Homo sapiens: one gene and its partners. The main gene of each other region encodes a partner of the protein of the gene in region 3 in a complex. Each region holds a gene or a part of one and is shown on either strand. Other genes may lie near its edges.

Evidence for each region.
Region 1: DNAAF10 (region 3) and PFDN2 share a complex: the UniProt entries of both Homo sapiens proteins name them as parts of the PAQosome complex.
Region 2: DNAAF10 (region 3) and RUVBL2 share a complex: the UniProt entries of both Homo sapiens proteins name them as parts of the PAQosome complex.
Region 4: DNAAF10 (region 3) and ASDURF share a complex: the UniProt entries of both Homo sapiens proteins name them as parts of the PAQosome complex.

What each region holds. Positions count from the first base shown.
Region 1 is NC_000001.11:161,107,611-161,115,041, forward strand, and holds part of PFDN2 (prefoldin subunit 2), read right to left. Parts: intron 3,003-7,431; exon of another isoform or gene 2,954-3,002; intron 1-2,953. UniProt on the Homo sapiens protein: Binds specifically to cytosolic chaperonin (c-CPN) and transfers target proteins to it. Binds to nascent polypeptide chain and promotes folding in an environment in which there are many competing pathways for nonnative proteins.
Region 2 is NC_000019.10:48,996,676-49,004,106, forward strand, and holds part of RUVBL2 (ruvB-like 2), read left to right. Parts: intron 1-2,643; coding exon 2,644-2,698; intron 2,699-6,603; coding exon 6,604-6,659; intron 6,660-7,431. UniProt on the Homo sapiens protein: Possesses single-stranded DNA-stimulated ATPase and ATP-dependent DNA helicase (5' to 3') activity; hexamerization is thought to be critical for ATP hydrolysis and adjacent subunits in the ring-like structure contribute to the ATPase activity.
Region 3 is NC_000002.12:68,147,491-68,154,921, reverse strand, and holds part of DNAAF10 (dynein axonemal assembly factor 10), read left to right. Parts: intron 1-7,354; coding exon 7,355-7,431. UniProt on the Homo sapiens protein: Key assembly factor specifically required for the stability of axonemal dynein heavy chains in cytoplasm.
Region 4 is NC_000002.12:189,657,149-189,664,646, forward strand, and holds the start of ASDURF (ASDURF protein), read left to right. Parts: upstream 1-4,310; 5' UTR 4,311-4,372; coding exon 4,373-4,462; intron 4,463-6,752; coding exon 6,753-6,806; intron 6,807-7,498.

The DNA of each region.
Region 1 (7,431 bases), on a different chromosome or scaffold from region 3:
TCACGACCAGCCTGGCCAACATGGTGAAACCCCATCTCTACTAAAAATACAAAAATTAGCCGGGCGTGGTGGTGCACACCTGTAGTCCCAGCAACTTGGGAGGCTGAGGCAGGAGAATCGCTTGAACTCGGGAGGTGAAGGTAGCAGTGAGCCTAAGATCATGCCACTGCACTCCAATCTGGGATACAGAGTGAGATTCTGTCTCAAAAAAACAAAACAAAGGCCAGGCGTGCTGGCTCACACCTGTAATCCCAGCACTTTGGGAGGCCAAAGCGGGCGGATCACCTGAGGTCAGGAGTTCGAGACCAGCCTGGCCAACATGGTGAAACCCCATCTCTACTAAAAATACAAAAAATTAGCTGGATGTGGTGGCGTGTGCCTGTAGTCCCAGCTACTTGGGAGGCTGAGGCAAAAGAATCGCTTGAACCCAGGAGGCAGACGTTGCAGTGAGCTGAGATCACACCACTGCACTCCAACCTAGGCAACAGAGCGAGACTCTGTCTCAAAAAAAAAAACAAAAACAAAAACAAAAATAAAAATTAAAAAAAAAAAAAAAACAAGGCTGGGTGTGGTGGCTCACCCCTATAATCCCACCACTTTGGGAGGCCAAGGCCAGCAGATCATTTGAGGTCAGGAGTTCAAGACCAGCCTGGCTGACATGGTGCAACCCTGTCTCTACTAAAAATAATACCAAAAAATTAACTGGGTATGGTGGCACATGTCTGTAATCCCAGCTACTCAGAAGGCTGAGGCAGGAGAATCGCTTGAACCTGGGCGACAGAGGTTGCGGTGAGCCAAGATCGCACCATTACACTCCAGCCTGGGCACAAGACCGAAACTCCGTCTCAAAAAAAAAAAAAAGGAGAATCACTTGAACCCAGGACATAGAGGATGCAGTGAGCTGAGACTGCGCCACTGCACTCCAGCCTGGGCAATAGAGTGAGACTCCATCTCAAAAAAAAAAACAAAAAACAAAAAAAACCTCTGGACAAATAATGCACGATTTACAGCCACTTTTCTTGAATTTCTTGAATCGTATTCCAAAGTAAGATCAATGAGTCAAAAAGGCATTAGCATTATTATAGCTTCCACTGCATGTCGCTAGAAAGCTCTCCAAGATGACCAGATTAATTTATACTGCTACCAGCAATATCATGATTATATCTCTTCTCTTTCCCCAGAGCCCTAATGGTAACTTTTATTATTTTTGTTACTTTAATAATTTTTAGAGTTGGAATGTAACTCCAGAAACCTTGGAATCATCCTTGATTCACTATCCACATCAAATTAATTACATGTGTACTACTTATTATACCCTCCTGATTTCTATACTGCCTCCTGATTTGCCCCCTTTAATCTACTCCCCACACTGCAGCATAAGTGACCAAAAATATAAATCTAACCAATTATTCCTTTGCCTAAAACCTTCTCAATGCTCACAGGATAAAATCTGAACTCCTCAAAAAGTCATATAAAGACCGGGTTCCAGTTTACCTCTCCCAATCAGTTGTTCCCTCCACATCTTAACTCAGCACTCAGTGTCCTAAGTCACTGGTAGTTTCCCTTAACAGCTGTCTTCAGGCATCTGCATAGAATCTTCACCCTACGTTTGGTATACTTTCCCAAACCTCTCTCATTCAGTTTTTCTCTGCTTAAGTCTAGTTCTTTCTTCAGGTTTCAACTTAGATTCTTCTGGGAAGCAGAAGAATCTGGCCATCTTCCATTCCCATATGTTAACCCTTTATATGTGCTCATATAAAAATGCATATTAGTTACTTAAATAATTTGACAAAATCTTTTCTATTTATATTGTGTTATTTTCCACCATGCAGACTGCCTTCTATTCTTTATCTTCTTTTAAAATTGTAAATATGCAAATGCAACCTATTTTAAAATATCTATTTCTTTCATAGTCCTACTATAATCTGCCTTCCACAGTCTCAAGAGTAAAGGAACACCTACTATATGCCAGGCACTGTGCTAGACTATCTCATTTAATTCTAAAAAACAAAAAAGACGGTAAGACCTGTACCTTCAATTTGTAAATAAGGAGACCAAGGCTGGTGGAGTGTTGTGTGGTGGTCAAAATAACATAGTGTGGATCCAGGCACGGTGGCTCACGCCTGTAATCCCAACACTTTGGGAGGCAGAGGTGGGCTGATCACTTCAGGCCAGGAGTTCGAGACCAGTCTGGCTAACATGGTGAAACCCTGCAGATCACTTGAGGCCAGGAGTTCCAGATCAGCCTGGCCAACACGGTGAAACCCCATCCCTAATAAAAATACAAAAATTAGCTGGGCGTGGTGGGGGGAGGGTGCCTGTAATCCCAGTTACTCGGGAGGCTGAGGCAGGAGAATCGCTTGAACCTGGGAGGCGGAAGTTGCAGTGAACCCAGATTGTGCCATTACACTCCAGCCTGGGTGACAGAGCAAGACTGTGTCTCACAAACACAAAACAAAATAGTGTGGGATGGGCGCAGTAGCTCACTCCTGTAATCCTATTACCTTGGCAGGCTGAGGCAGGCAGACCACTTGAGCTCAGGAGTTCGAGACCAGCCTGGCCAACATGGTGAAACCCCATCTCTACTAAAAATACAAAAAATTAGTCGGGTATGGTGGCTTATGCCTGTAGTCCCAGCTACTCGGGAGGCTGAGGCAAAAGAATTGCTTGCACCTGGGAGGCGGGGGTTGCAATGAGCCAACACCACACCACTGCACTCCAGCCTGGGTGACAGAGCAAGGCTCCGTCTCCAAAAATAAAAAATAAAATAACCTAGTGAAGTGCAGAAATCATACCTGTACCCAGGTTTGTCTTAACTCTAAAAATCTCTGTTAATATATTATTCCTGGCTTATCAAATATTAATTTCTTATCAAAGCAAATTTATATTCCTGTTTTCTTTTTTGTTTACCATATAGTTTTAATAATTTTAGGAAAAAATCTATAATCATTACCTTTCTCTCCAAAATGTCCTAGGGTCTTCTTACATGACATTTACTCTTACTGGTTTCAATAGAAGAATAGAAGAGGTAGAGAGTTATGATTGGATGAACCTGGAAAAGCATGATCTGGGATACTGCTCCACTAATTACCTTCTTTTCAGTTCAGTGCCCCCTTTTCTGAAGAACATACTCAACTCTCTGTCAAAGAAAACTTCTTTGACCTTATTACTCCATCAAATAATAGTACTCATCCCTTCTCTTCATGAAATTTTTTTTTTTTTTTTGTAGAGACTTTTTTTTTTTTTTGAGATGGAGTCTCGCTCTGTCGCCCAGGCTGGAGTGCAGTGGCATGATATCGGCTCACTGCAACCTGCACCTCCCAGGTTCAAGCAATTCTCCTGCCTCAGCCTCCCGAGTAGGTGGGACTACAGGCGCCCGCCAATGCGCCCGGCTAACTTTTTGTATTTTTTAGTAGAGATGTGGTTTCACCATGTTAGCCAGGATGGTCTCAATCTCCTGACCTTGTGATCCGCCCGCCTCAGCCTCCCAAAGTGCTGGGATTACAGGTGTTAGCCACTGCGCCCAGCCCGAGATGGGGGTCTTACTATGTTGCCCAGGCTGGTTTCAAACTCGTGGCTTCAAGAGATCCTCCTGCCTCAGCCTCCCCAAGTACTGGGATCCAAGTAGCAACATAGTAAAGTGGAAAGAACCCAAACTTCTTATTCTGACCTGGGTTGAAATCCCAGTTTTGCCATTTACTTGCTATATGACTGAGTCACTTAACTTTCCTTGTTTCCTCATTTATAAAATGGACTTAATATAATATACCACAGGGCAGGGTTTCTCAACATTGTCACTACTGACATGTTAGGCCAAATCATTCTTTGCTAGGAGGGCTGTCTCAGGCATTATAGGATGTTTAACAAATCCCTGGACTATACCCACTAAAAGTCAGTAGCAACCCCTTTGATTTGTGACAACCAAAAATGTCTCCAGACACTGCCAGATGTCTCCTAGGAAAAGATAATGCCAGTTGAGAATCACTGCTACAGGGTAACAATGAGAACTAACTGAGATAATAGGTCAAGTGCCCGATACAATGTAGATCTTCGACTCCCCTTTGGTTTCCAGGTCCCTTCAGTTCTCCTTCCTATCTCAAGCCTCCTTCTTTCTCCTTTCTGAAAGTTCTTCCTCTTTCACTCCCACAATGGCCACAGGATCTAAGATTCTATTCATAGCACTTCTTCATTACCTACATTATTTTTGAAATTATTTTTTATTGATTCATAATCATATTTTCATGGTATTGTGATAATTTGATATATTCATATAATCAAATCAGGGTAACCTATACTATTTCAAGTGGCATTCTTAGCTACTTCTATAGTTCCAGCAATTGCCTTTATTCTACTTGCCTGCAAAACCAGGCCTTTTCAGAAATTCTAGTCCCACATTTACAAGTTAGAGGAAGGAGCTTTTTTGTGCCTGACAGAAATGGCTTAACGTCAGACCATGACAAGTTACTTCTTTTCTGAATGTTTCTTCACCAATAAAATACAGATTAATACCTGTCTCACAGAATGCATAAGTATTAATTACTTCTTTTCTGATGTTTCTTCACCAATAAAATACAGATAATACCTGCCTCACAGAATGTTGTAAGGATTAAGTAATTACATCAAGAACTTAGGACAATATCTATCATATAACAAGTTTTCAATAAATAGTAGCTGCTATTATTACAGATCATCTCCACCTAAATGTCCCATGGATATCTTAAACTCATGTTGTTCAAAGCTGAAGTGATCTTATCTCTTCTATTTCTGCTACTGACATCACTCTAGGCCTCCTGGTAGGAAACCTTAGTTTCATCTTTTGTTTTGTTTTTAAAGATGGGGTCTCCCTATGCTGCTCAGACTGGTGAAAAGTGGTTATTCACAGGCACAATTATAGCACACTATAGCTTCAAACTCCCAGACTCAAGTGATCCTCCTGTCTCAGCTTCCTGAGTAGCTGGGACTACAGGCACTTGCCACCATACCCAGGTTCATCTTTGAACATACCATAATCCCATGAACTGCCAAATGTATTGCACTTAGTTTAGCAATTTCTCTTAGGCTCACTGACATAACCCTAGTTCAGATGTTCATTACATTCTTATCTGAATTACTGCAATAGTCTTCTAAATGATCCTATTTTTAGACTCCCCAAACCTACCCTACACACTGCTAATTTAATCTTCCTAACACTTAGATGACATAGAAAAATGTTCAACATATACTATTAGGCTTAAAAAACAGATTACAAACCAGTACATACTGTAGTATAATCCTAATTTTATAAAATATGTAAAAAAAAAAAAAAGCTCCCCCTTCCATCCACACATATATACACAAAAAGACAAAGGAGGGGGGAAAAAATCTCTCAAAGGATATACTCCTAAATGGCAAGAAAAGTTATCTCTGGATAGTTGGATTATGGGCAATTTATTTCCTGGTTTGAACTTTTTCCTTTGTTTTCTGCAGTTCCGACAATAAATGTATTATTTTATATAAGAGTTAAACAATTAATAATATAACATATATCCTTCTGTGACTTCCTCACTGCTTATGTTAAAAAGTCATAAATTCTTTGGCATGCACTCAAAGACCTCTATGGCCTTATTCAACTACTCTCCTCTTATCATATTCCCTACTTTCTATTCCCACTGCTACCTGTTCAAATCCATCCACTCCTTCAGGGTTCTGCTCAAATACCTCTAACATAATCATGGCATAAGTGAAAAAAATACCTGATTCTTAAGTCCCTCATTTAAAAATCCTGCTCTTCCAGTTACTGACCTTGGGCAAGTTAACTAAAGCCTCTGAAATTAAAATGTCCTCACCTATAAATGGAGGACAACACAACCTACTTCAAATGGCAGTAATTGAATAACAGAAGGTAGGCCTGAGCGGTGGCTCAGCTCATGCCTGTAATCCTAGCACTTTGGGAAGCCAAGGCAGGTGGACTGCTTGAGCCCAAGAGTTCAAGACCAGCCTGGGCAACATGGCAAAACTCCATCTCTACAAGAAATACAAAAATTAGCTGGGCAGGGTGGCACACGCATGTAGTCCCAGTAACTTGGGAGGCTGAGGTAGAAGGATCACCTGAGCCTTGGGAGGTTGAGGCTGCAGTGAGCCGTGATCGCACCACTGCACTCCAGCCTGGGCAACAGAATGAGACCCTGTCTCAGTCAGTAACAGAAGGTAAAACAAGTGTCTAACACAATGTGTTATTTGCTTCCATCTTGTTTGTAAGGGACATATGTGGCTCAAATTTGCAGCAGTGATAAATCTTGTAATGTTTTACCCAGTGTTCTCTCCAGAATAAACAAAGGCAAGAGAATGTTAATCAAGGAACAGCCTCAAAACTCACTTATCACACTTCCTCAGTTTCCTGAGGGAAGTTTGAGGGGTTCTCTTTAGCTCCCCTAAAACAGTGGTTCCACTCTTGTTCTACTTCTTTTTTCACTTTCTGTACAAACTATGGAAAGTGATCATTTTTATCCATAACCACGGCTTTATCATCCATAAACTCAATTCTCAAATCTGTATCTCCAACTCAGATTTCTTACTGTATCTCAAGATTTAAAAATCAAAGTGTCTACTGAATGTTTAACCTGGGTGTCCCACAAGAAACCTAAACTCAAAATCCTAAAATAAACTTACATTTCCCCCAAAATTGTCTGTCTTCCTACATTCCTTATGGCACCATTATCCACCAAAGACAGAAACCTGAGAGACATCTTATATTCCTCTTTTACCCCCTTTTCTCCATATTCAAGTTCTGTAATCCACCTCAAACATTAAGTCCCACCTGCATCCCAAACATGCCAGGCAGTTTCACGCCTTAGTGTTTTGGAACACATTTATTCCCTCTACCTAGAAAATCTTCCACTTCCTTCTTTGCTTGACTAACTTCTCTCATCCTTTAGAATTGAGCTGAAGGATTTTTCTCCTCTAGAAAACAAAAGCTAACTAGCATTTACTAAACACACACTATATTCTAATCACTGTGCAAAACACTTCGCATGCATTGTCTTGCCTAATACTCTAAATTCAGTGATGAGGTAGGTATTGTTATGTTTCTACAGATGGGGGAGGCCAAGATGTAACTCATGGGAGGTCATATATAAATAGTAAATAGTAGAAATGAAATTCAAACTTAGGTCTGACCCTAGTGCATAAGAATGCTCTTAGCCACCCTACTATACCACAGCTTCCCTTATCCAGCCCCTACCCCCACAATCCTACAACCTCGTGATTAGTTAGGGGTCTCTCCTCTGCTGCCATAATGAAGGGATTGTGCAGCACACTATAAATCTTTATTGTTTGGTTTGTCTTTTCTCAAATGAGTCTGAGTAAAGCAATTTGAAGACAAAGTCTGTTTCATGTACAATAGTCTCTCATTATCCAGAGTTATCCAATGTCTGAAAATAAATGGAAAATTCC
Region 2 (7,431 bases), on a different chromosome or scaffold from region 3:
CCACCACGCCTGGCTAATTTTTTGTATTTTTAGTGTAGACTGGGTTTCACCATGTTGGCCAGGCTAGTCTCGAACTCCTGACCTCAAGTGATCCACCTGCCTTGACCTCCCAAAGTGCTGGGATTACGGGCGTGAGCCACCGTGCCTGACCTAATTTTTGTATTTTTAGTAGAGACAGGGTTTCACCATGTTGGCCAGGCTGGTCTCGAACCCCTGACCTCAAGTGATTTGCCTGCTTCAGCCTCCCAAAGTGCTGGTATTACAGGTGGGAGCCACTACGCCCAGCCTGTTGTTTTTTTTTTTTCTTAATAGCTTTATTGAGATAGAATTCACGTACTACATAATTCACCCATTTAAAGTATACAGCTCAGTGTTTTCTAGTATATTCACAGACTTGTGCAGCCATTTCCACAGTCAATTTTAGAACATTGTCGTCACCCCAAAAAGAAACCCCATGCCTCTTACCTGTCACCGCTAATCCTTCCATACCTCCCATCTTCAGTTCTAGGCAGCCACTAATCTTTCTCTGTATATGGATTTGCCTATTGTGGCTACTTCATATAGATGGAATCATACCATATGTGTCTTTCGTGTGTGGCTTCTTTCAGTCAGTATAATGTTTTCAAAGTTCATCCACGTTGTAGCATGTATCAGAACTCCATTCCTGGCCGGGCGCGGTGGCTCACGCCTATAACCCCAACGCTTTGGGGTGCCAAGGCAGGTGGATCACCTGAGGTCAGGAGTTCAAGACCAGCCTGGCCAACATGGTGAAACCCCATCTCTACTAAAAAATACAAAAAAATATTAGCCAGGTGTGGTGGCGGACACCTGTAATCCCAGCTACTCGGGAGGCTGAGGCAGAAGAATCACTTGAACCCAGGAAGCAGAGGTTGTAGTGAGCCAAGATTGCGCCATTGCACTCCAGCCTAGGTGACAGAGTGAGACTATGTCTCAAAAAAAAAAAAAAAAGAAAAGAAAAAAGAACTCCATTCCTTTTTATGACTGAATAATATTCCTTTGCACAAATAGACCCTGTTTTATTTTGCCATTCATCAGCTGATGGACATGTGGGTTGTTTCTATCTTTTGGCTGTTGTGAATAGTGCTGCCGTGAACACTCGTGTCCATGTTTTGTGTGGACCTCTGGGGGGGTCCTGAATTGTCCCGGGTGGTGTTTACTCACCTCCCTCCCCCATGTGAGAAGGGGTGGTAGCTGGCTCCTCTCTGTGGAGAACTGTCAACATGGGAAGCCTCGGTATATTCTTGTTGAATGAGCTCAGCACTTTAGAGTATCACTTAGCAAACCACAGACATTGAGTCCCGAGGTGAACAAGAGAGAACAGGCCGTGCCCTTCATGGGACTCATGTCCACTGGAGCAGAGAATATTGATCCATCCATCTCCCTCGGGAATGTGAGATCACACAGGGAGATCGGGCTCCCAGGGAGGCCTTTCATCTGTCTGAATGTCTAGAGGTCCTAGAACTAGCCTGGCAGGGCTGTTGGACAGAAAGGGCCTCCCCTAGGGGGCAGCACTTGATCTAATTCAGTGAGAGGGCAGGGAGAGCAGTCTGGACTCAGGGGCCAGCATGTGCAAGGCCTGGTGGTTGAGAACTGGGGCCGCCTGGTACAAGGGATGCTGGGAAATTAGCAGGGGCCAGAGCATGTCCAGCTCCATGCCTGCTCCTCATTGGTGTCTGTCCTTATGGAGCTCACAGTTATTAGAAATGGGGAGGACTTGTCTGGGCACGGTGGTTCACACCTGTAATCCCAGCACTTTGGGAGGCCTTGGTGGGCAGATCACTTGAGGTCAGGAGTTCGAGACCAGCCTGGCCAACCCCAGTAGAGATGGGCGAAACCCCATCTCTATTAAAAATACAAAAAAAATTAGCCAAGTGTGGTGGTGTGCGCCTGTAGTCCCAGCTACTCAGGAGGCTGAGGCGGGAGAATCGGTTAAACCCAGGAGGCGGAGGTTGCAATGAGCTGAGATCGGGCCACTGCACTCCAACCTGGGCGACAGAGCAGACTCCGTCTCAAAAAATAAGAAAAAAAAAAAAGAAATGGGGAGGACTTAGCCGGGCACAGTGGCTCACGCCCATAATCCCAGCACTCTGGGAGGCCAAGGCTGGTGTATCACTTGAGGCCAGGAGTTTGAGACCAGCCTGGCCAACATGGCAAAACCCCATCTCTACTAAAAATACAAAAATTAGCCGGGTGTGTTGATGCGCGCCTGTAATCCCAGCTAGTCAGGAGGCTGAGGCAGAGAATTTCTTGAACCCAGGAGGCGGAGGTTGCAGTGAGCCGAGATTGGGCCACTGCACTCCAGCCTGGGTGACAGAGCGAGACTTCATCTCAAAAAAAAAAAAAGAAACAGGGAGGATTTCATTCATTCACCAAATAACCAAATATGTGCTGGACCCTGAGGACCAAGCTGTCGATGAGACAGACAGTCCTTGTCTTCCTGGGGCTCAACCAACCAGCCATTAGGCAGTGACAGGCAAGAGGGGTGGGGGTGACTGGTGCCTGTCCCATCGCCTGCCTGTGAGGGGAAGGAGTGGAAAGGACCATCTCATGGGAGGGACAGAGGAGGGGTTGGTGAAAGCTGGGACCACACTAGTCCTCTGACACATCTTCTTGCACCCCCAGACAGCCACAACCAAAGTCCCGGAGATCCGTGATGTAACAAGGATTGAGCGAATCGGTGAGTGAGTTGGGTCAGGAATAGGACCTAAGCCCTGCCTGCCATGTGCCCTGACAGAGCAAACCTATTGAGGACCCCTAAGATGGAGAGGGAGGTGGCCTGCACACCAACTGTGCCCCCACTACCATTCCCCCACTCGCCCTATCTAATGGGGGAGGAGGATCCTCAGTTCCAGAGTTGGGTCAGATGATGCACTGGGGACCAGGCTGCTATCCTGGCTATCCTGGTGGGGTTCCCGGGTATGTTTGCCTGGAAGTCATAGATATTTACTGGGTGCTTTACTGGGTTTGGCCTCGTATACCCAGTACACACTGTGGGGTGAGTTCCCTGAGGGCAGGGACGAGGTCGTGTCATTCCTAGCTGTGTCCCTAGCACAGGACCTAACAGAGCAGATGATCAAGAGATAACCATTGAATGCACGAGTTTGCGTCCTGTGGAGCCCTCGCAGTAGCCGCATGAGGTGCATATTGTAACTGTTAGCTGAGGGAACTGATTTTCAGGACAGCTAAATCACTGGCCCCGGCTCACACAGAGCAGGAAGTTGAGACGCAGTGAGGCCAGCAGGGTGCGCTCTCACAAAGAGCTTTACCGGCAGGGAAGTGACCGCATTCATTCATGCAGCAGGCTCACTGATTCAGGGCATCCGAGAAAGGCAGTAAGGGCTTCTGGCTGTGAAGATGGGTTTTAGAAGCCCAGTGCTGGATTCCTGGAGCTTAGCTCTGCCACTTTCCCACCATGTGGCCAGGGACTAGTTCCTCTCTGTGCCTCAGTTTCCTTATCTGCAAGACGAAGCTAAGATAGTTTACCTCATCAGTTAATGTAAGATTCAGTAAGGTAGTTCATATAAAGCATTTTGGGTCTGTGTGCCAACACTGTTTCATCTATTAAAAGTGCTGGGGCACTGGGTGCAGTGGCTCATGCCTGTAATTCCAGCACTTTGGAAGGCCAAGGTGGGCGGATCACCTGAGGTCAGGAATTTGAGACCAGCCTGGCCAACATGGTGAAACCTCGTCTCTACTAAAAATACAAAAATTTGCTGGGCGTGGTGGCGCGTGCCTGTAATCCCAGCTACTCGGGAGGCTGAGGCAGGAAAATTGCTTGAACGAGGAGGTGGAGGTTGCAGTGAGCCAAGATCATGCCATTGCACTCCAGCCTGGGTGACAAGAGTGAAACTCTGTCTCTCAATAAATAAATAAATAAAAGTGCCGAGACTGGGTGCTGTAGCTCACGCCTGTAATCCCAGCACTTTGGGAGGCCGAGGCGGGTGGATCACCTGAAGTCAGGAGTTTGAGACCAGCTTGGCCAACATGGTGAAACCCTGTCTCTACTAAAAATACAAAAATTAGCCAGGCATGGTGGTGCATGCCTATAGTCCCAGCTACTAGGGAGGATGGCTTGAACCTGGGAGGCAGAGGTTGCAGTGAGCCAATATCGTGCCACTGCACTCCAGCTTGGGTGACAGAGTGACTCCATCTCAAAAACAAACAAAAAGTGCCAAGTATGGCCGGGCATGATGGGTCACGCCTGTAATCCTAGCACTTTGAGAGGTGGAGTCAGGAGGATTGCTTGAATCAGGAGTTCAAGACCAGCCTGAGTCACATAGTGTGATCCTGTCTCTAAAAAAAAAATAAAAAAATTAGCCGGCAGTGGTGGTCCATGCCTGAGTCCCAGCTACTTGGGAGAACTGCTTGAACCAAGGAGGTTCAGGATGTGGTGAGATGTGACTGCACCATGCACTCCAGCCTGGGTGACAGAGTGAGACGCTCTCTCAAAAAATAAAAATAAAAACATTTTTTTTTTTTTTTGGAGACGGAGTCTCGCTCTGTCGCCCAGGCTGGAGTGCAGTGGCGCAATCTCGGCTCACTGCAAGCTCTGCCTCCCGGGTTCACGCCATTCTCCTGCCTCAGCCTCCCGAGTAGCTGGGACTACAGGCGCCCGCCACCATGCCCGGCTAATTTTTTTGCGTTTTTAGTAGAGATGGAGTTTCCCCGTGTTAGCCAGGATGGTCTCGATCTCCTGACCTCGTGATCCGCCCGCCTCGGCCTCCCAAAGTGCTGGAATTACAGGCATGAGCCACCGCGCCTGGCCAAAAAACAATAAAAAATTAAAAAAAAAAAAAAAGGATGAAGAGCCAAGCACCGCTTGTGAGCTGAGGACCCAGTAGAGACTAGCTGCACCCAGGAGCCTCCCTTGGGGTGCTCACAGTCAAGCACTGGGGTCAGCAAATCTTTCCTTATTTTATTTTATTTTTTTTTTTGAGACGGAGTCTCATTCTGTCCCCCAGGCTGGAGTGCAGTGGCGCAATCTTGGCTCACTGCAAGCTCCACCTCCCGGGTTCACACCATTCTCCTGTCAGCCTTCCGAGTAGCTGGGACTACAGGCGCCTGACACCACGGCCGTCTAATTTTTTATATTTTTAGTAGAGACGTGGTTTCACTGTGTTAGCCAGGATGGTGTCTATCTCCTGACCTCGTGATCCGCCTGCCTCGGCCTCCCAAAATGCTGGGATTACAGGCGTGAGCCACCACGCCTGGACCCTAGCAAATCTTTCTTAAAGGGTCAGATGGTAAATCCTTCCTCTGTTGAAACTACTCAACTCTCCTCTTGCAGTGCGAAGGCAGCCACAGACAGTATATAAATGGCAGTGTTCCAATACAAAGATTTTTTGGTTGGTTTTTTGTTGTTTTTTTTTTGAGATGGAGTCTCACTGTGTTGCCCAGGCTGGAGTGCAGTGGGGCGATCTCAGTTCACTGCAACCTCCACCTCCCTGGTTTAAGTGACTCTCATGCCTCAGCCTCCCGAGTATCTGAGACTACAGGTGCATGCCACCACGCCAGGCTAATTTTTGTATTTTTTAGTAGAGACGGGGTTTCACCATGTTGGCCAGGCTAGTCTCGAACTCCTGACCTCAGGTGATCTGCTTGCCTCTGCCTCCCGAAGTGCTGGGATTATAAGCGTGAGCCACCGTACCCAGCTCCAATAAAATTTTATTTGCAAAAACAGGTGGCTGGCCTCCAGGCTGAGGTTTGCTCAACCCTCATCTAATGTAAAGCATGGGAATCCCATCTTCCCCTCTCGCTGGCTGTGTGGCTGGGGCATGGGACCTAACCTCTCTGAGCTCCCTCCCCATTCATATCAATAGGTTCTGGGACTGTTGCCATTTTGATACTCAGAAGTGCTTTCAGGGTGATAGCAGCCAGGGCTCTTGTTTCATTTTATTTTGTTTTACTGAGACAGGTCTTGCTCTGTCATCCAGGCTAGAATGCAGTGGCACAATCTTGGCTCACTGCAACCTCCGCCTCCCAGGTTCAAGCAATTCTCCTGCCTCAGCCTCCTGAGAAGCTGGGATTACAGTCATCTGCCACCATGCCCAGCTAATTTTTGTATTTTTAGTAGAGACAGGGTTTCACCATGTTGGCCAGGCTGGTCTCGAACTCCTGACCTCCAGTGATCCGCCCGCCTCGGCCTCCCAAAGTGCTGGGATTATAGGCAGGAGCCACTGCGCCCGGCCCCAGCCAGGGCTCTTTTTTTGCAGGATCATATGGAATAAACTGAGAACATGTGGGTGCTGTGTAAACCATAAACATGAAGTAATTGTGATCATTAGCCCTTGTGGTTAGATCTTAGTACAATTATGTGCTTAATCAGGCCTCAGTGACTTTTGTTTAACTAGGATGCATCCTCAGAGCAGCTCCAGTTCATTGAGCATTTACCACATTCAGCCATCTTCCTAGGGAGGTGCCAATTTGGGATATCCTTTCCATGTGCCCCTTCATTCCCCCAACCCCTGCTCCCTACTCCCACCCACCCCTTTGACAAAGAAGGAAACCAGGGCTCAGAGGGGTCAGGCCACATGTGCAGCAAGCTGGCTAGTAACTGAGTCTTTGTTCTTTCCCTTCATGTAGGTGCCCACTCCCACATCCGGGGACTGGGGCTGGACGATGCCTTGGAGCCTCGGCAGGTAGAGCAGAGGAGGCTGGGGTGTGAGGGCCTCTCCATGAAGGTCTTGGGTAGTGGGTACCCAGGGTCCTGGGGAGTGTGGGGACTATGTTACGGTCTTCTGGACCTTTGGCTACATACCCATAAACTTCAACCACATGTGGGTTTTCTTGGTACTAAAGAATTGATTAGGCTAGGTGTGGTGGCTCATGCCTGTAATCTCAGCACTTTGGGAGGCCAAGGTGGGTGGATCACCTGAAGTCAGAGTCAAGACCAGCCTGACCAACATGGTGAAACCCTGTCTCTACTAAAAATACAAAAATTAGCCGGGCATGGTGGTGCATGCCTGTAATTCCAGCTACTCAAGAGCCTAAGGCAGGAGAATTGCTTGAACCTGGGAGGTGGAGGTTGCAATGAGCCGAGATTGTGCCACTGCCCTCCAGCCTGGGTGACATCTCGGAAAAAAAAAAAAAGAATTGGGAGTGGGTAGCAATTGCTTTGCCACCTTAAAAAAAAGTTAGACTGGGTGCAATGGCTCACACTTGTAATCCCAATACTTTGGGAGGCTGAGATGGGAAGATTGCTTGAGCCTAAGAGCTTGAGGCCAGCCTGGGTAACATAGTGACACCTCCTTTCTACAAAAAATTTTAAAAATTAGCTGGACATGGTGGTGCACATTTGTGGTCCCAGCTACTCAAGAGGCTGAGGTGGAAGGATCTCTTGATCCCTAGAGGTCAAGGCTACAGTGAGCCATGATTGTACCACTGTACTTCAGCCTGGGTGACAGAGCGAGA
Region 3 (7,431 bases):
GCATAGTGATGCGAGCCTGTAGTCCCAGCTACTTGGGAGGCTGTGGTGGGAGGATCTCTTGAGCCCAGGAGGTCAAGGATGCTGTGTTCGCACCACTGCACTCCATCCTGGGTGACAGAGAGACCCTGTCTCAAAAAATAATAAAATGAAAATATATGATTTGTATGTATTTCAAAAGTACACTTACTCCATCAAGTGGAATAGAGTAGTTTGTCTTTTGTAGCGACTCTGGGGAATTTCAGCAAATTTTAAAAAGATAATTTTCTTTTGTAGCAAAAATAATATGTGTCCACGATAGAACATTTAGAAAATAGGAAAACGAAGAAAATATCACCCATAATCTCAATGCCAGGAATAACCACTAAGTGTATTTTCACGCCGGGTGTGGTGGCTCACGCCTGTAATCCCAGCACTTTGGGAGGCCGAGGCGGGTGGATCATGAGGTCAGGAGATCGAGATCATCCTGGCTAACACGGTGAAACCCCGTCTCTACTAAAAATACAAAAAATCAGCCGGGCGTGGTGGCGGGCGCCTGTAGTCCCAGCTACTCAGGAGGCTGAGGCAGGAGAATGGCTTCAACCTGGGAGGCAGAGCTTGCAGTGAGCCGAGATCGCGCCACTGCACTCCAGCGTGGGTGACAGAGCAAGACTCCGTCTCAAAAAATAAAAAAAGAAAAAAGAAGTATATTTTCACCTGAATCCTTTGGATATTCTTTTTTTCTACCATGAGTTGTCTGAGAACACACTATTTCAAGGTACTGTGTTTAACAAGGACCGAAGAGATTTAAAAGTTGAGTCCTTTCTCCTAAAGAGCCTACTGTCCAAAAAGAGGGTAAAACTAATACAAAAATACCTTTAAGAACTTACACTGGGCTGGGCGCGGTGCTCACACCTGTAATCCCTGCACTTTGAGAGGCCGAGGCGGGGGGATCACAAGGTCAGGAGAGCAAGACCATCCTGGCCAACATGGTGAAACCCCATCTCTACTAAAAAATACAAAAATTAGCTGGGCGTGGTCAGGTGCGTGCCTGTAAACCCAGCTACTCAGGAGGCTGAGGCACGAGAATCACTTGAACCCGGGAGGCAGAAGTTGCAGTGAGCCGAGATCGCGCCATTGCACTCCAGCCTGAAGACAGAGGAAGACTCTGTCTCCAAAAAAAAAAAAAAAAAAAAAAAACTTCATTGTGTTTGGCTGTTCTGGTGCAATGGAAAAAAATTTTTAAATATAGGTTAAATACTGGTCCAGTAACTCCCACTCCTTACTGTGCATCAGGATCATTTGAGTGCATTTTGTGGCTTGTGTGTGTGTGTTTTAAAACATTTGTGCCTTGGTCCCACCCCTAGAAATTCTGACACAGTAGTACAACTTTGTTGCATCTGGAGTAAGGTTTAGAAATCAGAGTATTTTTAAACTTCCGCAAGGTGATTTTAATGAGTCTCAGAGCTGAGAACCATTGAGCTAGATGGGTCATTTATTAAAATATTAGGAAACAGACTTGATGTATCATCGTAGATCTACCCTTAAGTCATGTGCTCCAAAACTCATGCATCGTTCTTTTTTTTTTTTTTTTTTTTTTAATTTATCACTGACTTGGAGCTCACAAAGCCCGTGCATCTAAGAAGAAAAGATGTAAAGGAAGCATATCAGCATATCAGTCTTTGTTGAAGTCTTCTTTATCTTAGTTCTAAAAGGATAGATAGGGAATGGAGGGCAGGGCCTCCGTGTTCAGTTGAGCAGTTTTTTGCACCACACAAAGGTGTCTGGCTGAGTGCTCAAGTGGGAGCTAAAAGCTCTTTTTCCTTCATCAAGCCTTACATGTGTGAGACTTCATCAGCCTATAAAAGGCAACTTTTTTCTCATTGGCACAAAGATACCATATGGACTAGGGATGGCCCTGAAAAATGGAAACACAGTTGTAGATGTTTATATTAAAAAAAATAGCAATAAGCTAATAAAATTCTGCTTTTTTAGCCCCTGTGCTACCGAATTTACTGCTTGTTAGCATTTGGTTGGCTAGATCTTTTAATGTTAATTAAGTATTGCCAGGATGTGGAGGAGGAAATACTGACAAGCTGTACTAGACCCACCCACATGCAGAACAAAAATAGCTCACACAGGAATTACTGATCTTGAGCTTCTTTAATCATTTTAACTTCTTATAGCAAGAAAGTGAACAGTTAGGTCAATTATGACCATCATTGATGGCCATTTTCAGTATCACATAGCAAAAATTGTTAGTATATATTGATTTTCTTTGTTGAACAATTTTTGCAAGATAGAGCTGCTTTTTTTTTTGCCAGCTAGTTTTCCAGCAAGAAAAATTTTGATTTACCACCAACTTCTTTTCATCTTTTCTTTTCTGTAGATAAACTATCTAATGGGGCAGAGAGGGAACCCGTTTGTGAACTATGAAAAATTAGCTTCACTAGTGTCCTCTTAATTTAGCTATTATTATTATTTCCATGAATGTCTGAGGAAAGAGGAAACATGGCCACTTTTGTAAGTCAGTTTGCCAACAGAGCTCGGCCCTTCTGAGCAAAGTGCAGTCCTCAGTGCACACAAATGATAAGTTTTAATACGTTTAATATGTTCATAATACGTTTAATACGTTGAAGATATACAGTTTGAGTTTAATTTGGTTCTTGCACAGCAGACCACTAATGACCATAAATATCTTTGTGTTTCTTTAAGAAAAGGACAAAGAACATGAGGGAAGCATAATATCATATATTTATATCTTGTAAAGACATGAATGAAGGTAAAAACCAAAGGGCAGAGATCTGAAAGTAGGTTTAATTCATGCCGTTGTGCCATTTACCTCAGCAATCAAGATCGGAACATTTCTTTGATACTTCCAATAACGCTCAGGTTTACAGAATGAGGACTCCAATAATAAAATGTTTATTTAATTGATTTACATATAAGCCTGGAGGCAGCCTAGTTTAGAGGAAAAAGTCTGGATTGTATCTGGCTCTTGGGACCTTAGGCAAGTCACTCAGTCCTCTGAACCTGTTTCGTCATCTTGAAAGTGGTGTTCTGAACACTTAGTTTGCAGTGTTGTATATATTAGAAAAGGGATGGTCTAGACTGGAAGAATATCTAAAATGTATCTGAAATGTAGGTGTTCAATAGATGGTTGCTATTTTCATGATTGCATGTCAATGACACCAGAAACTGAACAGTTTGTCAGAACCCTGGCACATGAAAGTATGGTAGGAGAAAAGAGAGAGCAAAGAAAGTGAACTCCAGCCCTGGTTTGTCTGTCCCTAGTGTTAGGGCTGAGAGATTCATGGATGGTCATTTATACCTTCATTCAACAAATGTTGAATGCCTGCTATGCGTTAAAAAAATTAGGCAAGGCCCTGCTCTCATGGTGCTCACATTCTAGAAAGGGGGACATAATTGCATGAATAAAATAATTTTGTTGATAAGTATAATGGATGATTAAACAGGGTGAGTGACAGTAATTTAGGGGTTTTTCAGATTGGAGGGACAAGGAAGACCTCTTTGGGAATGTGGCATTTGAACTGAAATCTGAATGAAGAGAAGGATAGAGGCATGGTGACCTGGGGAAAAGTAGTCCAAGCAGTGGGAACAGCAAATTCAAATGGCCCAAGTGGAAGAGACCTTGACAAGTATGAAGAACAAAAAGCAAGCTGTCTGGTGTGGCTGGAATTAGTAGAGAAGGCAGGAAACAGGAAATGAAGTCACACACACAAGACCAGATCCCAAAGGACTTTTTGCATTTTGTATACCATAGGCCTTCATGCCACTCTTGTGAGTCTGTGCTTCTCAATGTAGATACATTTTACTTCTTTCCTTTATATTTGTAATAAAGACATACTTTTAGAAGGGATGCAATGACAACTGTGAAAATGTATAGAGCTTATTGTGTAGACTGGTTGTCAGTTTGGTTTCTTTCCTTTGAAGGTAGCAATTCTCAGACATGTGCAGGTGTCAAAGAATCTGCACATTGCAGTGCTGTTTTTGGAACACCATAAAATATTGGAGTAGTCAGTTCTATCTCTGCACAGGGAAGAGATTTTCAGCAGAAAAATCTGACTATATATAGAGATAGATAAATAGATAGAGATTCCGATTTTTACATCACAAGTAACCACACAGTTTTTAAGTCTTCACTTCCAAGGTTTTATTTTTATTTTTATTTTTTTATTTTATTTTATTTTTTGAGACGGAGTCTCTCTCTGTCGCCCAGGCTGGAGTGCGGTGGTGTGATCTTGGCTCACTGCAGCCTCCGCCCTCTGGGTTCAAGCAGTTCTCCTGCCTCAGCCTCCCCAGTAGCTGGAATTACAGGCATCCACCACCACGCCTGGCTAATTTTTGTATTTTTAGTAGAGAGGGGGTTTCACCATTTTGGCCAGGCTGGTCTTGAACTCCTGACCTCAGGTGATCCGCCTGCCTCAGCCTCCCAAAGTGCTGATATTATAGGCGTGAGCCACTGCACACAGTCCAAGTTTTTTTAACTGGTGTTCATTTGCTAGTATTTTCTACCAGGCAAGCTAAGAAAATTATTTTTAAAAAAACTTTAAAATCTGAAAACAACACATGCATCAGCTTTTGTTCTTGGTGAATTTTCTGATTAATGTATTATGTTAGTAACAGAAGATCAGTGTGTTCCAGGAGTATAGTTTGAGATTCTCTAGTCTAAAGGGTCTAAAAGTGAAAGTTGGGTAAAAGAATAACAGGGAGGAAAGTTTTTGCTTCCAGTTTTTTATTTTTATCCAGCAGTAAAATTTTAGAAGACTGTAGGGAACCAAAGAGTGTAGGTTAGTTTTTACCTCTTCCATGGCCTAGGAATCACAGAAACCCTCATCAGAGGTTTGAGGGGACAGCGGTGGAATTCTGGGAAGCAGAATGCTTTAGCTGGTTGGTGGGAAGAAAATGGGAGACCAGTCTTCCCAGTGCTTCTCTGAGAAAAATGTTCCCAGAGAATTGGGTCAATAGATGATGCAAGTTCTTCACAGCTTCTAATCCCCTGTCTCCTGGAACCACATTGCTGTGCATGAGGACCACCAGCTTCTTACCTCAGAGGGTCTGCTTCCACCCTCTGCCTCAGAACATGGAAGCCATTATCAGTGGCTTAGAGCTGGCAAGACCCAGGTTCAGTGTGAGACCAAGGGGAGGAAAGAGTGGATAGCCGTCTCACCAGTTGGCATAGGTTGGAACTCAGAATTAATTTCACCATAGAAATTGTGCCCTAATAGTGATTAAGTGCTTTACCACTGTTAATATATTATTTCAGGTACTTTTATTTGAGGAGAGGGGAATGGTGAGGAAAACATAAATTGCCTGCAGTTAGAAACCATGTGCTTTGTTGACAAAATTTTGATCCTCTGTGTTGCCCCATTTTCAGATACTCTTTTTCATAAAATTGGGAAAAAATGGGAATAAATGAATATTAATTTTCTGCGGCAGTGAATAACTGATGCCATCTCAGTCCACTTGTGCATTAAAAAGAGAAACATTCTGTGGTTCCATGCTTCTCATCAATAGGGTCTTTTACAAACATGTTACTGTACGTGGCTGATTTCGTTTACTAGACAATTCTGAGGAAGGTATGAGTGCTTTTAGACTTGGCCACGTAGTAACTCCAATTTATCTAGATCACAAACAATAGGAAAGTTCAACAGTCTGGGAGTTTCCAAAGCCCTATACCATATAATGGTAACCTTTGAATCAGAGAAAAAAAGTTGTTATAGTTTGTGTTAAGTGACTTCTATTTTATTCGTGAAAATTGCTATGTATACCTTATATGGATAATATACCCTATATAGAAATGCCTGGATAAACATTGAAAGTGGCAGGGAAATTATTTTTAAAATTATTTGAAACAGGCCAACCTGGGAGGGATGAAGAGAACTGAAGAGTTACAAGGGGAGATGTCCTGGAAACTGGAGAACACTGCAAAAGGAATAAAGTTTATCCAGATGTATTGTTAAGTGAAACACATCAAAGGACAGTGTACCATGATCTGCCTTGTATTGAAACAAAACCATGTGTGTTTGTAAATGCGTAGAAGGCCTAGAAGGGTGGGGATTACTTCTGGAGAGTGTTAAAGGGACTCACTTTTTCCTTCCATCCTTTTGTTTTGTTTGAATTTTTATAGGGAGCAGGTATTACTTTTATAAACATTAAGAATTTAAAAATGTAAAAATTGTTAGAGACCAAGAGGAATAGTTTTGCCCCATTGAGGCTGACAGTCAGTGGGAAGTGTTATATGGCAAGAGTGTGATGTGGGACAGATATCAGTGGCCTCATCTAATTCCAGATTCCGGAGATCTCGGGAGCCAAGGCAGCAGGAAAAGCAGTTAGACTGTAGGAGGGACTTCAGTGACCTGGGCAGGTAGAGTTGGCGGCGGGAGGGGCCATGGAGAAATCAGAAACATCAGGAAGTAAAAGAAGGTGAATAGAAGACCCAGGGAGGCATAGGAGTAGTATAACGAATATGTATATTTTGGAGGAACCAGATAAGAACTGATATTTGAGTTGTTAGCTTTTTGAGGGACTGGCCAATCTCATTCATCTTTGTATCCTCTTTTGCCTACTTCAGTGACTTGCATGTAGTAGAAACCATTAAATGTTGAATGTTGTATGAGTTCGGCAAATCTGTACAGCCCTATGCTTTGGTCTCCTTTTATGACAGGAGGGTATTGTGTTAGATCCTTTCCAAGGACCTTTTTGGCTACATAGTCTTCTTCACCTGATTTCCATAAACCCCATACGTTAAATAATATATTCGTATGTGATTGTTTTACTAATGTGACTATATACAATACTTGGTGCAGTAGCCTTTTAAAGTAAAGAAACCTCAAAAGATTGGCTGATCCATACTAATAGTAGCGCCTTGGTACACACAAGTTTATAAATCTCTCTGCATTGAAAAGGCCCCAGAGAAAGTGGGACATAAACATCTTTAGTTTATAGGGTTCTGCAGGGAAAACTATAAGAGACACATAACATTTTTGTTCCCATAACCATCTGGAAAGATAATATCTTCATTATGTTCTCATTTCTGCTGAGGATCTTAAAGAATATCACATGAAATGCTGAAACTTTCATATTTGCAATAGAGATTGTAGAGCTGTCAGCATTTGAATGTCTCATTAGTGAGAGGAGAGGAAAGGCAAATTAACACTTTTTCTTTTTGACAGTTACATATTTTAAAGAAAAATGAGTAAAGGAAAAAGCAAGATTATTTTCATCAGAAGATGTTTTAATTGCCTTTTATATTGTCTTATTTAAATGCCATAATAGAGCCATAAATATGATATTAATAGATTATAAATATCTGCTTACATAAATAATATATCCTCTCTTCCTCCCTTCTATGAAGATTGAAAAGGCCAAACCTATTAAATGTGGAACATTTGGTGCAACATCTTTACAGCAGAGATATTTAGCTACTGGAGA
Region 4 (7,498 bases), about 120 Mb from region 3:
TGATGGGTTGATGGGTGCAGCAAACCACCATGGCACATGTATACCTATGTAACAAAACTGCACGTTCTGCACATATACCCCAGAACTTAAAGTATAAAAAAAAGAAAAAAGAAAAATAATAGTTTTTATAAACCATTGAACAAAGAAAACTTTAGGCACAGATAAATTCACTGGAAAATTCTATATAATATTAATAGAAGAAATAACATTAATTCTACAAAAACTCTTCCAAAACATAGAAAGGAAGTATTAAAATAATAAATCGGAAGGCCATTACACTGAAGCAGCTCTAGAGCTGAGTGCCTACCTAAACAAACCAAAAGCTAAAAGGTTATATTCTAGGTAAACAGAACTTAGCTTAACCAATCAGAAACCAACAACTAACCTCTAACTAGGGATTTTCCAATGGAATGATCCAAATAAGGCTACTGGTCCACTTTAACCAATCAAATATTTTCTTTGCCTTGCATCCATATTTGAATCTTTGGGAAAGAGGTGGACAGTGGCACTCATATGGAATAGTTCTAGAAGAAGCCAAGATAATTTCGATTAACCTTCTTTATAGCTGTCAGACTATGTGAAGATACAACAGGCATGGGCAGCATATAAAACATCTTTCATTGGTGACATTCACAAACCACACTGACCTCTAGATTGTAAAACAGAACTACCAACAATGAAATTTTCAAATCCAACTGGCAGGAGAGCAGTGGATTGGAAAGAAGACGAATATGCTTAGATGAGGCATGTGAGGCACCTGGGCAGAAAATTTAAAGAGCACTTACTGCAGGACCTGAGAGTCAGTGCATCTTCAAATTTGCACCCTACCACACTCACCACATCCTGTTTCAGCCCTGCACAAGAGCTCCAAAGTGAAGTTGGCTGCAAGCGTCAGGGAGGCCTGATGTCCGCATTCCACAGCTTTGAAGCAAAGCTTGAGAACCAGCCTTATCTCAAGTAAAAAGGATTTACTAATCTCTAGACCAGTACTTGGAAACTCTGCCATTTCCCTTGAGAGACCAAGACCAGCCTGATGTGCTTTGTTACTAGGGCGACAAAGCATTCTCCCTGCGTTCTCCCTGCAAAGAGTTTATGGTAAGGATCCAGTAGTTCCTTTCCCAGATCCTAGAGCCTTGTGGAAAACATCAGTCCAATATCTCAGGCCCTGTCACCTTCTGGCAGAATTATTGATATAAATCACCTATTTAGACTGTGATATTACCTCTCCTTTGACTTCACCCCCTTGGTCCTACAGCCTACCTTACTTCCCCCTCTCCAACCCCCTCCCCCCACCGGCAATTACCAGCACTGTCTACTTGCTGAGATTTCCCTTTGGTCTGCTAGTCTACGCCTCTTAGAAGAGTCTGTAGTTGAGTCTGTCTCCTTTCAAATGACTTCCAGTCTGTCCTACCCATCAGAGTTAACAGAACCATCCAATCACTGTGACAACCAACAGTACCTCCAAACATTTTTTCAAGCATCAGCTAGGGAAACCCCTAGCTCTGTTGAGAATCACTGGAAGAGAAGACATAGTTTCCAGTTGTATGGTGGGCTGCAGATGGGCAGTCCTGAGCCAGTTAGGCATGACACATGGTACTAGCTAACCCCAAAGCTGACTTCAAGCAATGCAGAAGTTAGAGCAGCTGAAGGAGGAAATAGAAGCAAATAGATAAATATTTTTTAAATAAGACAAAGTGTGAAAGCACTTTTAAGACAGTTTAGCACCATACTAAAATTATTATCACCACTTTGTTTAGTACTATTTTGTTTAGTACTATGTTGTCTTGGGCAGCCCTTGTGAATAAACAAAAACATCAGAACCTGGCAGAGCCGTAAGCAACAGCCCACTTCCCAAAACGGGGTGAACAGCTGTAGACCAATCAGCGGTGTTGGGTGTTTCCGGCTACTCGATGTGGACATGATTGTGAGTCAGAACCAATTCAAACTTTAACCAGAGCTCCCACTCTGCCAGACACTATAATAGAAGGTGGGGTACAAAGAAGACCAATAGGCTAGGATGCTCAGTCTCATCAGCTTTACAGATAAGCCTCACTATTACCTCTAAACAAAGTGGAAGCCAGTCCTGGCAGCGCACACCTATAACCCCAGCATTTTGGAAGGCTGAGGCGGGCAGATAGCTGGAAGCCAGGACTTTGAGACCAGCCTGGCCAACATACTGAAACCCCATCTCTACTAAAAATACAAAAATCAGCCGGGCATGGTGGCACACACTTGTAATCCCAGGTACTTGGGAAGCTGAGGCAGGAGAATAGCTTGAATCCAGAAGGCAGAGGTTGCAGTGAGCAGAGATCGCACCACTGCACTCCAGCCAGGGCAACAGAGAAAGACTGTGTCTCAAAATAACAACAACAACAAAGTGAAGTGATACTTCACTTTGGAGCTCTCTTTTTCCTAAACTTGGATTCTTAAAATGTTTCTAAGCTAGCAGTTTTGTAAGAACTTTTTTCCTTAAAAATCTGGCACATTTAAAGTATTGGAAATTCTGGGCTTTTAAAAATATTGGGATTATACCAGTGCTTATTTTTCTCTATAAACTAGTCAGAACAGAGGCCCTTTAATTAGAGATACTATAGTGGGATTTATTAATACACTCCAGAAGTAGGGAAATATTTCATATTTACAAAGGGAGACATAAAGCCTGTTCTAAGTTACAGACACACAGACACATAAAGAGGTTATTGCTTCTGTCTTACAACTTCAATCTCAGGTCAAAAGTAAACACAAAACCACAAAAATTCACCAGTTCTTCTGCTTGAGCGGCCTTTATGTTAAAACAAACAAACAAAACCTTACTAGCCCACATCTCAAATAGCTGTCCTCCTTCCCTCTCAGTGGACACAAAAGTAATTAATTAATTTGAGCTCACAAACAATAAACAAAAAGACTTACAAACTCGCTTCTCTGTCACCTCTCTTATTTATTTATTTGAACCCCTGGCCTCAAGTAATCCTCCCACCTCAGCCCCGAGTGGTTGCGATTACAGGTTTGAGCCACTGCACCTATCTACCTCTCTACCAATGAGACTAGACGTCCATCATCCAACAGATACCACCAAATGGTTAGACCACAAAACCAAACTCCCAATCATTGCTGCTATCAATGTATCAGTAATGTATAAGTTATACCTGAATAACTTATCAGGAATGTACAAATCAGAAATGAAAACACAATCTTTAAAAATCAATTATAAAGGAAAAATATATAACCACTTGGGTTTTCTGTAAGAGCAAATAAAAAACATGCCTGGCCTTAAACAACCCATGATGTATACATTTCTTTCGCCAGATAGTTTGATTCATCACATAAATCCAGTTGGGCATCTCTGTGGAAACTTAAGATTTCCAATAATATAGTATAATTATCAAAAACCTAAAATCATGTCTCTAATGTGAACATAAAATATATACATGTCAAACTTTTATTCAACTCATTGGTTAGTGAGGGAACCGATGACTTTAAAACCAATACAGAATATTAGAGAAGCTAGGCATATGTTAATAAAGAAATGTTAGGACAGAATGCAGGGTTAGATACAAAACTGACTAATGTGTTGCAGAACAATAAATCATAACCTGTGTTGGTATCTGGTACAACAAAAAATTATTTGCATCTCTACCAAACCAAAATCTCTACCAAAGTTAACCTTTGCCCCTACAGAATTGTAAAACAGCCCAGTCAATATAATAAAGTCAAGTCCAGAGCAGCACTGAAAGAGCATCCAGTAAATAAATCTCTTTTGCCTATTTCCAAGTTTTAGTCATTTTTTCCACAGAAATGAGATATTGCAAATATTGCACGGGACATAGATGCACTAAAAAACTATTAATTCATCTGAAGTTCATACTGTATTTTATCCGGCAACCCTAACCACGAGTTAACCAAAACTTTACCAAGTCTGTACAGTTCTTTTGCCAACACGGTATCTCTTAAATCTGTTCCTTAGCTTCATCTTTCCCTAGATAATAAATATCATATTAAGCGCTGTTTCTATTGCACGACTATTCTTCATATTTACCACTGGAGGGCGCACAGAACTCGTAGTATACTAGATAAGAGGTCATGAAGAAACCACCTGAGCGTTTCTGCATCTCAACCACAAGAGGCCAGTACAGGAACCTCAGATTTTGCAACCAGACTGTTTACTCGCTCCCTAAGCAGCCATGCGCAGGCGCGAAACTCCTCCCCAGGCCAGACCCGGCCTGCGCATGCGTTCAAGTGAGCGCGCAGACGCTATTGGTAAGACTCGCGGGAAAAGAAAGGGTGAGCGCGGCTGGAAGCGCGCATGCGCTGTGGCTAATGCCGTAGGCTCCTTCAGGGCTGAGCCATCCCGCGTGTCTTGCGCTCGGTGGAAATGCCCAGCCGAGGGACGCGACCAGAGGACAGCTCTGTGCTGATCCCCACCGACAATTCGACCCCACACAAGGAGGATCTAAGCAGCAAGGTGAGTGTGAGACGCGACGAAAAGGCTCCTGGACTCGGGACCGGGCGCCACTGGACCCTGAAGGTGGTCCGCAGCGGGCAGCGTGGGGCCTGCCTGGGCCTCGGCTTTGCCCTGCTACTTTGCTCTTTTTATTCATAGCACTTGACAGCCACAGTTAGTCCTTTTATTTTCTGAAAACAGTTGCGAAAAGGGAGATCTTGAAATTTGTCCCGAGACTGGACCCAGGTGACAGTGGGGCGGAGTTTTGGTTGGGTGTTTTCCTCCCTAGTCTTTTTAAACTTTTGGAAATACCGCCCACCCCAAATCTGTTCCATCAAAGATATTCTCCATCCAGTTAACCATGCCAGCAACCCGGGGTCCATCCTTGACCCCCATCATGGAAGCCTATCAGTTCTACCTTTGAAGCTCATTTCAAATATGTCCCTTTATCACCGTGAACACTCTTACCACCCCAAATAAGCCACCGTCATCTGCTATCGGGACCCCTGCCCCCGGCAAGGCCTTCCTAAGCGGTCTCTCCTCATCCACCTGTTAGCTGCTGCTTCTCCGTTAACCAGAGCAATGGTCCTAAAACACGCATTGGGTTGTCACTCATACCAAACTGGGGGAGAGAGGAAGCCAATATAATATAAGCCTTAACTGCCATAAACAAACAACCTTTAAAGATAAATGGGGGTGGCGAGGGTTATAGCCCTTCAGGTATTACATGTCCTAGATTCTACTTTGGTTCTGTCCCAAACTTACAATGACATCTTGGGCAAGTCTCTTTAATCTTTCTGTATCAGTTACCTTCTTTGAAGTAAAGTGAAATGTACACCTGTCATTCCTAAAATGGGAAAGCCCTGTATAAATGTTAAGTCTCAAAGAATGTTTACAAATTTGGCCTTGGAATTCAACCTCATTACTACAGCTCTGCCAACGGGGGAGACAGAAAGGTGCACATTCATGGGGATTGGGGGTGAATTTTCAAAAGACACACAGCCCATTCTGATTACCACCATAGCAAGCCACTTACGCATACTGGTGGTTACAGATCCCTGAGGTGTGTGTGAGGTAGCACAAATATGATAAAAGCTGCTTTTAGAGGCTCTTGTGATACTATGTAATCAGTCATGTTCACAAAATAAATAGAGTTAAAAAGAAACTTAGTTTTCACTTAGTTGAGCCCTCCCCTACAAATAAATGAAGCCCAGGCCAGCATGGTGGCCCAGGCCTGTAGTCCCAGCTACTCGGAGGCTAAGGTGTGAGAATCGCCTGAGCCCGGGAAGATCAAAGCTGCAGTGAGCCGTGATCGCACCACTGCACTCCAGCCTGGGTAACAGAGCAAGACCCTGTTTCAAAAAAAAAAAAAAAAAAAAAGCCCAGTTCAACAGTGCCAGCTCTATGCTAGTCATTGAGATAAAAAGAGGGAAAAATACCAAGATGGAACATGATAGGTCTTACTGTCCCCAAATAGGGCATTGCTTGATTTGAATGTTTGACTGCAGCACTTAGTACATAAAATCATGAAAATATTGAAAAAAGTAACCCACCCCTCATTCAATTTGCTTTTTTTTAAATCTAAATCACAACTTAATTTTCAATCTAAATCACAACTTAATTCCTTTTGGTGTATATCATATATATATATTTTTTAAATTATTTATTTATTTATTTTTTTGAGACGGAGTTTCACTCTTGTTGCCCAGGCTAGAGTGCAGTGGTGCAATCTTGGCTCACTGCAGCCTCCGCCTCCCGGGTTCAAGCAGTTCTCCTGCCTCAGCCTCCCGAATAGCTGGGATTACAGGCATGTGCCACTACGCTTGGCTAATTTTGTATTTTTAGTAGAGATGGGGTGTCTGCATGTTGGTCAGGCTGGTCTCGAACTCCCGACTTCAGGTGATCCGCCCGCCTTGGCCTCCCGAAGTGCTGGGATTACAGGCATGAGCCACCGCACCCGGCCTGGTGTATATCATATATTTTTAACAAAAGGTATAAACCTTGTTTAGTAACTGTAGTCCTTGGCATGATTGCTGGTTATGAACACGAAAATCCCTGTCTGGTCTTAATGGGTTACCTAACATTTTGCAAGTCTAATCACTGTTTTTTCTCCTCCAGCTTTTCCTGAACTGTACCCCCACACAGAGACTCCTGTTGAAAATGATCTGTATATTCACAAACTGCCCGTTTGGAAAACCAGTACATCATAGCCCCTTATCCCATCTCTAATTTTAAAACAACCCCTTAAGGGATTTTCATTGAGCATACTTTGAAAACATCTGACTTAAGGAGTTTTTCTTTATTTCAATAGATTAAAGAACAAAAAATTGTGGTGGATGAACTTTCTAACCTTAAGAAGAATAGGGTGAGTTATTATAGGAATTCTGAATAATATGTGGGAGGTTTATTTATGTTAACTATATATTAAAGTTATAAGAAGTATATATAAGATTTAATCATACTTTAATAAAATGTATAGTATTTCAGCATCTTTTAAAATTGCAAGTGTCTAGATTCTTTTTTTAAATGGATAGATCTCATAGCTGAAGATGTCTTTTTTCTATCATATGCCATTCACATTGCCTTTGCAACAAATGATACTAGTTGTATTTTGGTATCTTGGAGCTATAATCACTAATGATGTTTTATACCTGAATTTGATGTTTTCTTTTGATATAAACGAACTTTATATTGAGATGAGAAGAAACTTTTCTTTTAAATGAATGTGGATAATTATTGAACAAAAAAGGATACATTGCTTCCCCTCCCTCCAAAAAATTTTTACATAGATTTTCCTAAATGTGTAACATGGTTATTTAATGCCATTTCCATTAATATGTTACAAACAAGTAAGCTACTGCTTTGTGTATGGTTATAGTGTCAAATTGCATTTTAACATTCAGGAAGAAATGAGTTTGAGCTCTTAAAAGCTTTGTAAAGATTATGTAATAACTGGCTGGTTAGATATTTCTGATATTGTCACTTATGGAATATTAGAAGTTGAGGCACATACAAAAATTAGCCAGGCGTGTGCCTGTAATCCCAGCTACTCAGGAG